2 separate regions of the Homo sapiens genome follow, and region 1 is linked to region 2. Evidence: fine-mapped expression QTL. A gene starts in region 2. The other region holds a variant in brackets. All regions are shown on one strand. Distances are from middle to middle.

Region 1 (4,370 bases), 220 kb before region 2:
GAAGAGGGGCAGGCAGGTGGGGAGGCTGTGGCCCTGGGGAAGCTGCACGGAGGCAACATCACTGCCAAAGGCAGTGCAGGCCTGGGCCCCAGGCCTAGGCTGTGGGGATCCCTCCCTTTGTGCTGTGATGGTAGGGGACAAGGACACGTGCCCGCCACCCCCAAGGTCACCAAGGGCCCCAAATTGTTGCCACGCTGGCAGCCCCCAGTGGCAGGAGGGTGCAGACCTCCCTTCCAGCTGGGGAGGAACAGCCTCGGGGCTGCTGGTGCTGGTGGGGCCTCGGCGGAGCCTGCAGGCAGGTGCTTGGCAGCAGCAGTTCACGGCCAGACCCCGCCTCCCAGTTGCATGCCTGACCTTTGAGGGCACTCAGGTGTCTGGAGGGCAGGGGGTTCCACTGACTAGGGTGAATGAAGCGCACCTGTTTGTATAAAGACAACACGTGTGCTGGATTCCTCCTGCCCGTCCCTCTCGAGGAGCCTCTGAAGAGGCCCTGGGAAAGGTTCCAAAAGATTCCCTTGCCCAATAGGCACACCCGTGTCCACTCTTGGGGAGCAGAAAAGGAGCTCCAAACAGGCTGGAGAGCCTGGTCCTGGGGCGGGCGCCTCGCTGCTCTGTGCCACCTGCAGAAAGGGCAGAGTGAGCCCCGCCTGCAGCCATGCCTGCCCCAGCAGCCCATGCACGGCCCTGTGAGCCATGAGCACATGAGGTCAGCCTCAAGGCCATCCCCGGCTCCCACCAAGTCAACTGTTTTCACTGCTGGCTTCAAGAACATTCTGGTGACAGGGCTCAGAGCTCTTCCCAGAGGGTGGCGTCTTTATCCCAGGCCTTCGGTGTGACTGGGACGGGTCCTGCCAGCTGCGGACTCTCCTAAGGGCATCTCTGGTGGGGACCATGTGCTCCTGCTCGGCCCCGGCGTGGGAACCAGGCCCTTTCATTTCTGCAAGTCTGAGTGCAAGGAGTGAGGGGGTCGTTGCTGGGTGCTGACTCGGAGTCCTGCCCCTCCCTCCACCCAGCCAGGTCCGACCACATAAACGGGGGCAGCCAAGCAGGCTCAGAGCAGGAGGAGCGGCTCCCAGGGCGTCGGAAGCAGCTCCTGGGCTCTTCGCAGGGGTCTGTAAGGACAAGTAGTTGTTGTGGGTCCAGTCAGGGCTGAATGCTTCCATCACCCTCAAACCCTGTTTCCCCCTGAAGCGTCAGATGAGCCAGCTCCCTACGCTGTCAGTGCGCTAATGGTCTTGAATGGGAAAGTGTGCAGAGGGCAAATGAGCAGTATCCCCCGCCCCCCGCTAGCCTCAAGTTGGAAATGTTGGAAATCCTTTTGACTCATAAACTAAAGCAGCACAAACCCGAACACGAGACCCTGAGACTACCAGGCACCGGCCTCGGCCTCCCTGTCCGGCTCAGCCGCCCACTTTTGTCTGTGGCAGAATCAGAGACGAGAGTGCGGATTGGGAGGTGGCGTGGAGGCGGCCCTGGGATTACCTGCATCCAGGTGTGCTGCTCTCAGGCAGGGGCTGTGATCATAGCTCGGGACCCTCCGAGACTTCCAGGCTCATCTGGCCAGTGCCTGTGGGCCCCGGGCAGGGCACTGTGCACAGGGCAGAGACGCAGGGGGCCCATCGGCACTGCTGTGATGGCAACTGTCGCGCAGACCTGCCACCTCTGTGCCCCGGGCTCTTCTACAGCCCTGGTGACAGCCCCACTCCATTACAGCTCTCGCCTAATTAGGGCAATTAAAATGAAAGTAATCAACACCGAGTAATGGGCAATCTCTTAATAAACTGCCCCCACTGCATTACCCGCACAGGCCTTGGGCCCTGGTGAATGTCATGGAGCTGAAGAACTGGGCCAGGCAGCCCCAGCCCTGCTGACCCCCCTGCCCTGCACCCTCAGACTGACCCTGACTGCTCTGCCCACGCTGCAGGGGCTCCACACCCTCCCCAAAGGGCCTGCGGGGCATGTCTCAGGAGACCCAGACATCGAGGGGATCAGGGATGCCACCCCCCACTCCCAAGATCTCCTCCCCCAAAGGGCACCCCCAACCCTGCTTCCCTGAGCCCCACAGAGGAGCCAGCATTGGCCTGGTGTCCGGGCACCTTGGCATCCTGAATTGGGAGGGACCTCTCTCAGGGACGCACCACCCCCATTCCCCCCACTCATGCCTGCCCTCCAGGGCAGCTGCCGGTGGTGGGGTCTCAGCTTCAGGGACCTGAGCCTGCCTCCAGCCACCCCACTCAGTCTTTCTGCTCCTGCGGCATGGGCTGACGGTGGCCACGGGCTGAAGGTGATGTTTCCTAAAATAGTCCCTATGCTGCCACCCCTTCCTCAGCAACAATCAGGGTCCCTGGGCAGTAGGCTCAGGTCATGGCTCCCAGAGCTGCCTCTGGGCCTCAACCCTGTGATGGGGGAGGGGTGTGCCCTCGGCTAATGTGCCCTGCCCTCCCCAGGGCACAGCTGGCTCAGCTGGTGCAGGCAGGACAGGGCTGCCTAAGCCTCTCAGAGGGAGGACGGCCAAGGGAAATGGGCTGGCTGTGCACGGAAGGTCCAGTCCCAGCTGCCGGCACAGGGAACAGCCTGTGGGGAGGTGCCCCAGGACCGGGTGACAGG[G/A]CCCTGCCAGAAGAGGAGTGAGGCTGGGCGGTGAGGGGCCCGCATAGCAGCCCAGGCGGAGTTCTGGGGGACAAACCCAGAGCCTGAGTGCACTGGGTGGGCAGGCGGCCCCCACCTGCCTCCAGGAAGCGCCCTCCTCATCTATGTGGAGAGGAGGCTGGGGGCACCCTGGCAGAGCAGGCAGGGTGGAGGCTGGCCCCGGCTATGGGGGGCTGTACCCCACAGGCCCCTTCTCCCCCAACACCCCCATGAACTCAGGGTTCTCTGCTCTGAGGCAGCCCATTGGAGCCTGGCTGGGGCAGTGTGGGTGGGACCTCGGCCTGGTAGCCTCTGGCCACAGCGGGGCGCTGCAGGACAGCCAGGAGACCCAAGGGTGTTGACACTCTCCCGGGAAACCGCAGGCTGTGCCTTCCCCAACCCACACGGGGCGGTCATAGGAGCCCCACCCAGGCCTGGGCCCTCCAGCCAGCCACATCCCTCTGTCCCCCACCACCCACGAGGGAATCTGGGTCCCCAGGGCACAGCCGGCTCAGCCTCCAAGCTGCAGACGAGTGTGAGTGTGTCTGTGTGTGTCTGAGAGCGGATGCTGGGGGCTGCCTGTTTGATGAGGGAAGAAAGGGCTGTGCGGAGCTAGTTCGTCAGGTCAAGTAGCTTGGGGACAGGGAATAGGGGAGTACCAGGGGCTGTCCCTGGAACCTCAACCTCAAAACTGAACCCCCCCACCCATGGGCTGGGGTGGCTCCCCCGACCCAAGGGCCTGGCAGGTGCTCTCGGCGCCCCCCTCGAATGGCCCAGGTGTGAGAGGGTGGGCAGGGGTGTGGTCCTGCGTCCCACTGAGAGGGCTGCCTGGACTGACGGGGGGTGTGCCTTCCTGAGGGGCTCAGGGTTGGGAGGGGCAGAGGGTGGGTCCGGGGTTCCTATTGCTGGGCCCTGACACCTCGGGCCACCGTAACCCTCCCGACATGGACACTCAGGGGTCAGATGTTCTTAGAGGGAACTGAGCTGGGGGAGGCCACTGTCCCATTCTGCAAGGCACGAAACTGAGGCCCCAGAGGTGAACAGTGGGCTGGAAGTTGGCCTGGGACACCTGGTAGGCCCCACCCCACCAGCCCAGGATCCCCCCAGTTTTCACCCAGTGGGGTCTGCACTGACCGTGGGGTCAATGGGAAGGGGTGGAGGTGGCTTGAGGCTGGGCACGGGTGGCCACAGGGCAGGAGAACTGGCCGCCCTCTGTGGACTCACCATGCTCCCCCACCCCCAGGTACTCTGAGGACCAGACATGGGCCCGTCGGGGTCCCAGACATGATGTCAGCCCAGGAGCTCGTGGCCTGCCTCTGCCGGGAGGGGGAGCAGCATCTGGCGCTGGGGGAGCTGCCCCTGGCCACCGCCTTCTACCTGGCTGCATTCAGCTGCCACGCCCCCTCAGCCCTGCAGAGTGTGCGCACTGCCCTGGCCCAGGCTCGGGGGGCGGCGGTGGTGGCCACCCTGGAGTCCTGGTGCCGCGGGGACAGCCAGATCCCCGCCATCCACTGGGACGGCATGGCAGTGGTCTCCCTGACAGGGTCGCTGGCCTCTGCCTTCCTCGGCGCCCTCTGCCCGGACCACCCCGCCGCCATCCTGCACCTGCTGGCAGGTCTGCTGGCCCGCGGGCGTCACGAAGAAGTGGTGCAACGCTGCAGCGCCCTGCTGGACTCTCATGCACAGCAAGTCCTGGAGCTGCGGCTGACCCGCGCCCTCGCCTGGGTCCTGTCCGGGGTGCAGGC
Region 2 (4,370 bases):
CTGAGGACAGTCCCAAGGTGCCTGTCCATCCAGCCATGCTGCCCTTCGGCCCCTCTCAGCCTGCCCCACTCTGCAAGTGGGGTCACAGTGGCATCCATATCCCAGGGCACAATTGGCATGATGCCCACAGCGCTGTGGCTCAGCTCCCAGCCAAGCCGAGTGCTCCTCCCAGGGGACCTAGGGGCAGGGCGTGGGCTGGCAGGCAGCGCCCCCAAGGCCCAGCTCACCTGAGGCGGGTCGCTGGCACAGACCTCCGCAGAGATGCCCAGGACCTGCAGGATGTGCTCCTTGGGGACGTAGTCGCCTGGGGACTTCTGGACGAAATGCAGGAGCACTTTATCACCACCTGTAGCAGCGGGCAGGCAGTCACGGCACCCCGGAGGCCGCCTGCACCTCACAGCCACATACCAGGAGGAGGGAGGGTAGGGCAGCCCTGGCCAGCCATATCCCCCACCCGGCTACCCAGATGAGTGAGCTGTTCTGCCACAGCCCCACTCAGCCCAGCAGACACGCAGAACCAGGCCACATTGCGGCGGAGGGGCTGTGATGAGACTGACAAGCCAGAGAGAGGGCCTGGGCTGGGCCACCAAGTTCAGCAAGGCCCTCCTTGAGGCAGTGGCCGAGGCCCCTCCCTCGACCCACCTTTGCTGACCACCAGCAGCCCTCCGCTCTGCAGCAGGTCCCCAGACAAGTTCCCCTGGATGCCAACAGCCTTGGCCTGTCAGGAGTGGGTACAGCCTGAGTCAATCCTAGAAGAAAGGCTCCTGGGAGCTCCCACCACCCCCCGGCCTGTACACCCTTGACCCGCACACACCTTGGCAGCCACATCACGCACGGGCTTCCCCAGAGCTGCTGGGAGGATGCTCAGGCTGTTGTACCTGCGAAGACACCAGGTCGCTTGGCCAAACTCCGGAGAAGCCTGGGTCCAGAGCCTGCTCCAGTGTCCATGAGACCAGTTCCTAGGTCAGGCCCCACCCCACCCACCCGCCTCACCAGGGCTCAGAGATGGCACAGGCGACCAGATCAGTAGCCAGCCCAGCCCACCGGCAGGTTGGACACCGAGCCCAGTGGCTGCTAGCCGAGGGTCCACAGAGGGTGCAGGGAGCATGGATGGGGCCCCAGGCTGGGTGTGCCCAGGGATCTGGCTCAGCTGGCAACTGCCAAGCAAAGGAAGCAGCCTGTGGCACAGACACCAGAAAGCTAGGATGGCCCCTGATGGGCCACGAGGCTCCACCCCACGAGGTGGTCTGGACACCGAGAGTAAGCCCCGGACGAGGTGGCTCATTACAGTCACCCAGCACCCAAGAGAAGGCCTGGCAGAAGGGCTGGTCAACAGTGCCACCAGAGCCGCCTTGCCCAGGAAGGCCCGAGTGGACAGCACCACAGAGGGCAGCAGGGAGAGGAGGTGGCAGGGAGCGGTGGGAACCCCTGGGCCCCCCACCCCACGCTACCCAAGGGTTCCCGCCCCCACTCACCGCTTGAAGCCTAGCTCCTTGTAAAGCTGCTTGCTCTCATCCAGGTAGAGCTCTGGAAAGCGGAAGCCACATGTGTGTGCCCCAGGCGCAGAACCAGCCCCCAACCCACTCACCACAAAGAATCGCCCTCCTCCTTCCGACCCTCTGTTCCTCTGCCCACCCTCCGTGCTCAGCCCACCCCCGCAGGGCAGGGAGGGGTAAAACGGGGCTGAGTGTCCCCCCTCCCCTCAGAAGAGGGGCTGAGTCCCAGAGGCAACAGGTGGAGCCGGCGGGGCAGAGCTCGTCCAGACTCTGCTGCTGGGCCCAGGTCTGTGCAGGGCACCACCCAGCCACCAGCTGCGGGGCGGGGAGGCAGGGAGAGATGAGGGACGCTGACCCGTGGGCATATCAAGGCCGCTCCAGCAGACAGAAGGGCCGGGGTTGGGCAGGAAAGGGCCCCGAACGCCCTGAGCTTAGGGAAGGGTATGTGCGCCGCCGCGGCGGGGAACAGGACGCACCTCCCGCGAAGTAGTCGCCGTCCAGGAACTCCTGCAGACCCAGGGCCTCGGGCCCTACGCCCACCAGGCGCACGCCGTGTTGGTCCAGGAGCCCAGCAAGGCTGCTGAGGTCCTGGGCGATCCAGCGGCACACCACGCACCCGAAGCGCCGCAGCCCGGCCACCACGCACGCGTGCTCCCGCCACAGGCTCCGCAGCTCCACGGCCTGCCGGGCGGCTGGGTCATGGGCGCGCCCCGTTGCCCCCAGCCCCGCCCAGGCCCCGCGGCCCCCACCACCCCATCGCTGCCAGGACGCCCGGGCAAGGAGCCAGGGACGCGCCCACCGCCCTGCGTCCACCCGGCCTCACCTCCCCGGTCACCGCATGCTTCAGGATGCACGCGCCCACGCGAGCAAGGTCCACCGTGCTCATGGCGGCCGCTGCCAGCCCTGGTTCCCGGCTCCCCGACTCCCTGTTCCCCGCTCCCGGCTCCTCGCTCCTGGATCCCCGCTCCCGGCTCATAGATCCAGCCCCAAGCCCCGCCCCGAGATGCCCCGGTCCCGCCTTTCTTGCTGCCGCCGAGGCCCCGCCCCTTCGGGCTCGTCTCCGCCCCGGGCCCGCCCCCAAGATGGCCGCAGCGCGCCCCGGCCACGCCCCCGACCGCACCCCGAGCCCTGCTCCGCCCCCTCGGATTCGCCCCTAGTCCCGCCTTGTTTCCCCTCCTACTCCAGGCCAAGCCTCGAGATCGCGGCGCCAAATCCTGGGTCCGCCTGCTTCGGTCCCTCCCGCCTCCTCAATCCGGGCCTTGCGGGACAGTTGCTGTCCCGCGTCCTGGTCCCGCCCCTAGCCCCGCCTCTCCGTTGGGCCGCCGACTTGGACCCCGTCGGCCATTGGCGCAGCAGGCGGAGCTGGGCGGTGCGGCCCTCGGTGCGCGGTGCGCCTGTGCGGAATGCGGCGGGAGGCGGGCAGCCGGCTCGGGGTCGTCCCGGGGGGCGCCGGGGAGCGGCTGGGTACGGTGGGCCCAGGGGTGGTCCAGGGAGCGGCGGGGGTCTCCCTGCGGCCTCGCGCGAGACTGGGCTGGACTCAGGGTTGAGGGGAGAGGGTGAGCGCAGGGGTCGCGGGCATAGGGGACCGCGGGCCGGGGTCTCCCGCGGGGCGGGGGTCCCAGCAGTGGGGGGCGGGGGGGTGCGAGGGCTTAGCCTTTCCACGTGGCCTGGTTTTCGCTTGAAAATCCCCGCAAATGCGGCAGCATCTCAATTATACATGGACGCGATGTCTTTAATCATGAAATACTGTTCATGTCGTGCCGGTTGCATATCAGCTTTTAACCCGCCAAACCTTGGGGCGAAATAGACCCCGGGGAGATAAGCACAGCTCCCAGAAGTGCACTGCGGGTCAGGTGCCTGGCAGATGCGTCCTGTTCCTCCCCCACTGCAGCCCTGTGATAGCTTTTGTCACCGAGTTGGGGTGAGGGCCGGGTCACAGCTTCACCCGGCCTGGGCTCCCACCTGAGCGGGCCCGGCCTGGCAGAGTCTGTGCTGCTGGCACGGGTCCTCACTCCCCAGGCCCCAGGACAGCTCCAGGGGCCTGGGCGGGCTGGAGAAGGAAGGGGGAGCCCCCACACTGTATTCCAAATAAAGAGAGGCCCCGGGGGGGTGCTGCTGCTTCGCCTGTGCCCTCGCCCTGGGGTGGTGAAGGTCCAGACTGCGAAACGGAAGTCGTCACTATGTCAGAAAGGGCAAAAAGCAAAACAAGGAAGGGGAAGCACTAGGAGGGAGGAGCTGTGGCAGCTCCAGAGCCCAGGAGTGCAGCCCCCAGAGACCAGGGCTACCCCTCTACCGTCTCGGGCTGTGCAGGAGGGGCCCTCTACCCTCTGGAGTTGTGCAGGAGGGGGCCCCTCTACCATCTGGGGCTGGGCAGGAAGGGCCCCCCCCCACCGTCTCAGGCTGTGCAGGAGGGGGCCCCTCTACTGTCTCGGGCTGTGCAGGAGGGGGCCCCTCTATCTTCTGGGGCTGTGCAGGAGGGGGCCCCTCCACTGTCTCAGGCTGTGCAGGAGAGGGCCCCTCTGCCGTCTGGGGCTGTGCAAGCAGTGAGCAAGCTGCCGCCTCCTTGGGAGCTGGGATCCCAGACGGGATTCAGCCATTTTCAGAGACGTTCCCAGAAACGAGAATGCGAGATCAATTCCTCGCCTGGCATCTCCCACCAACGCCATCGCTGCAGGAGCCTCACTGGAAGCCAACGGGCAGAGGAGAGTGGGAAAGGAGCTTGCAGCCTCCCAGCTCCAGTGATGCAGAGCAGAAGGTGGCTGGGAGGCTGAGAAGCCATAAGAAAATAGCAGGGCCAGCCCATGTGGCCGCTCAGATACATGCTATGTGTGTGTTTGCATATGTAGGGGCTGAAAAACTCCACCTCCATCCTTT

Which allele goes with the higher level. Positions count from the first base shown, and alleles are read on the strand shown. Sizes are in standard deviations (SD) of each study's normalised expression.
In carriers of allele A in region 1, the expression in atrial appendage of the gene that starts at base 2,491 in region 2 tends to be lower than with G alone (large effect, 0.94 SD a copy in GTEx).

What was found. PIP is the estimated chance that this variant, and not a neighbour inherited with it, causes the effect.
Region 1: its variant is the best candidate, but not a certain one, in a credible set for the expression of PRXL2B in atrial appendage (GTEx, PIP 0.59).

What each region holds. Positions count from the first base shown.
Region 1 is chr1:2,800,367-2,804,736 of GRCh38, reverse strand. TTC34 (tetratricopeptide repeat domain 34) reads left to right here and starts at 3,044. Exons shown (of 9, transcript NM_001242672.3): 1 at 3,044-3,160; 2 at 3,869-4,370. The coding sequence starts at 3,910. The variant G/A (reference allele first, on the strand shown) is at 2,608.
Region 2 is chr1:2,584,898-2,589,267 of GRCh38, reverse strand. It overlaps PRXL2B (peroxiredoxin like 2B), which reads right to left and starts at 2,491. Exons shown (of 7, transcript NM_152371.5): 1 at 2,320-2,491; 2 at 1,973-2,177; 3 at 1,476-1,527; 4 at 815-878; 5 at 643-718; 6 at 228-346. The coding sequence starts at 2,382. RefSeq lists an enhancer at 1,051-1,683.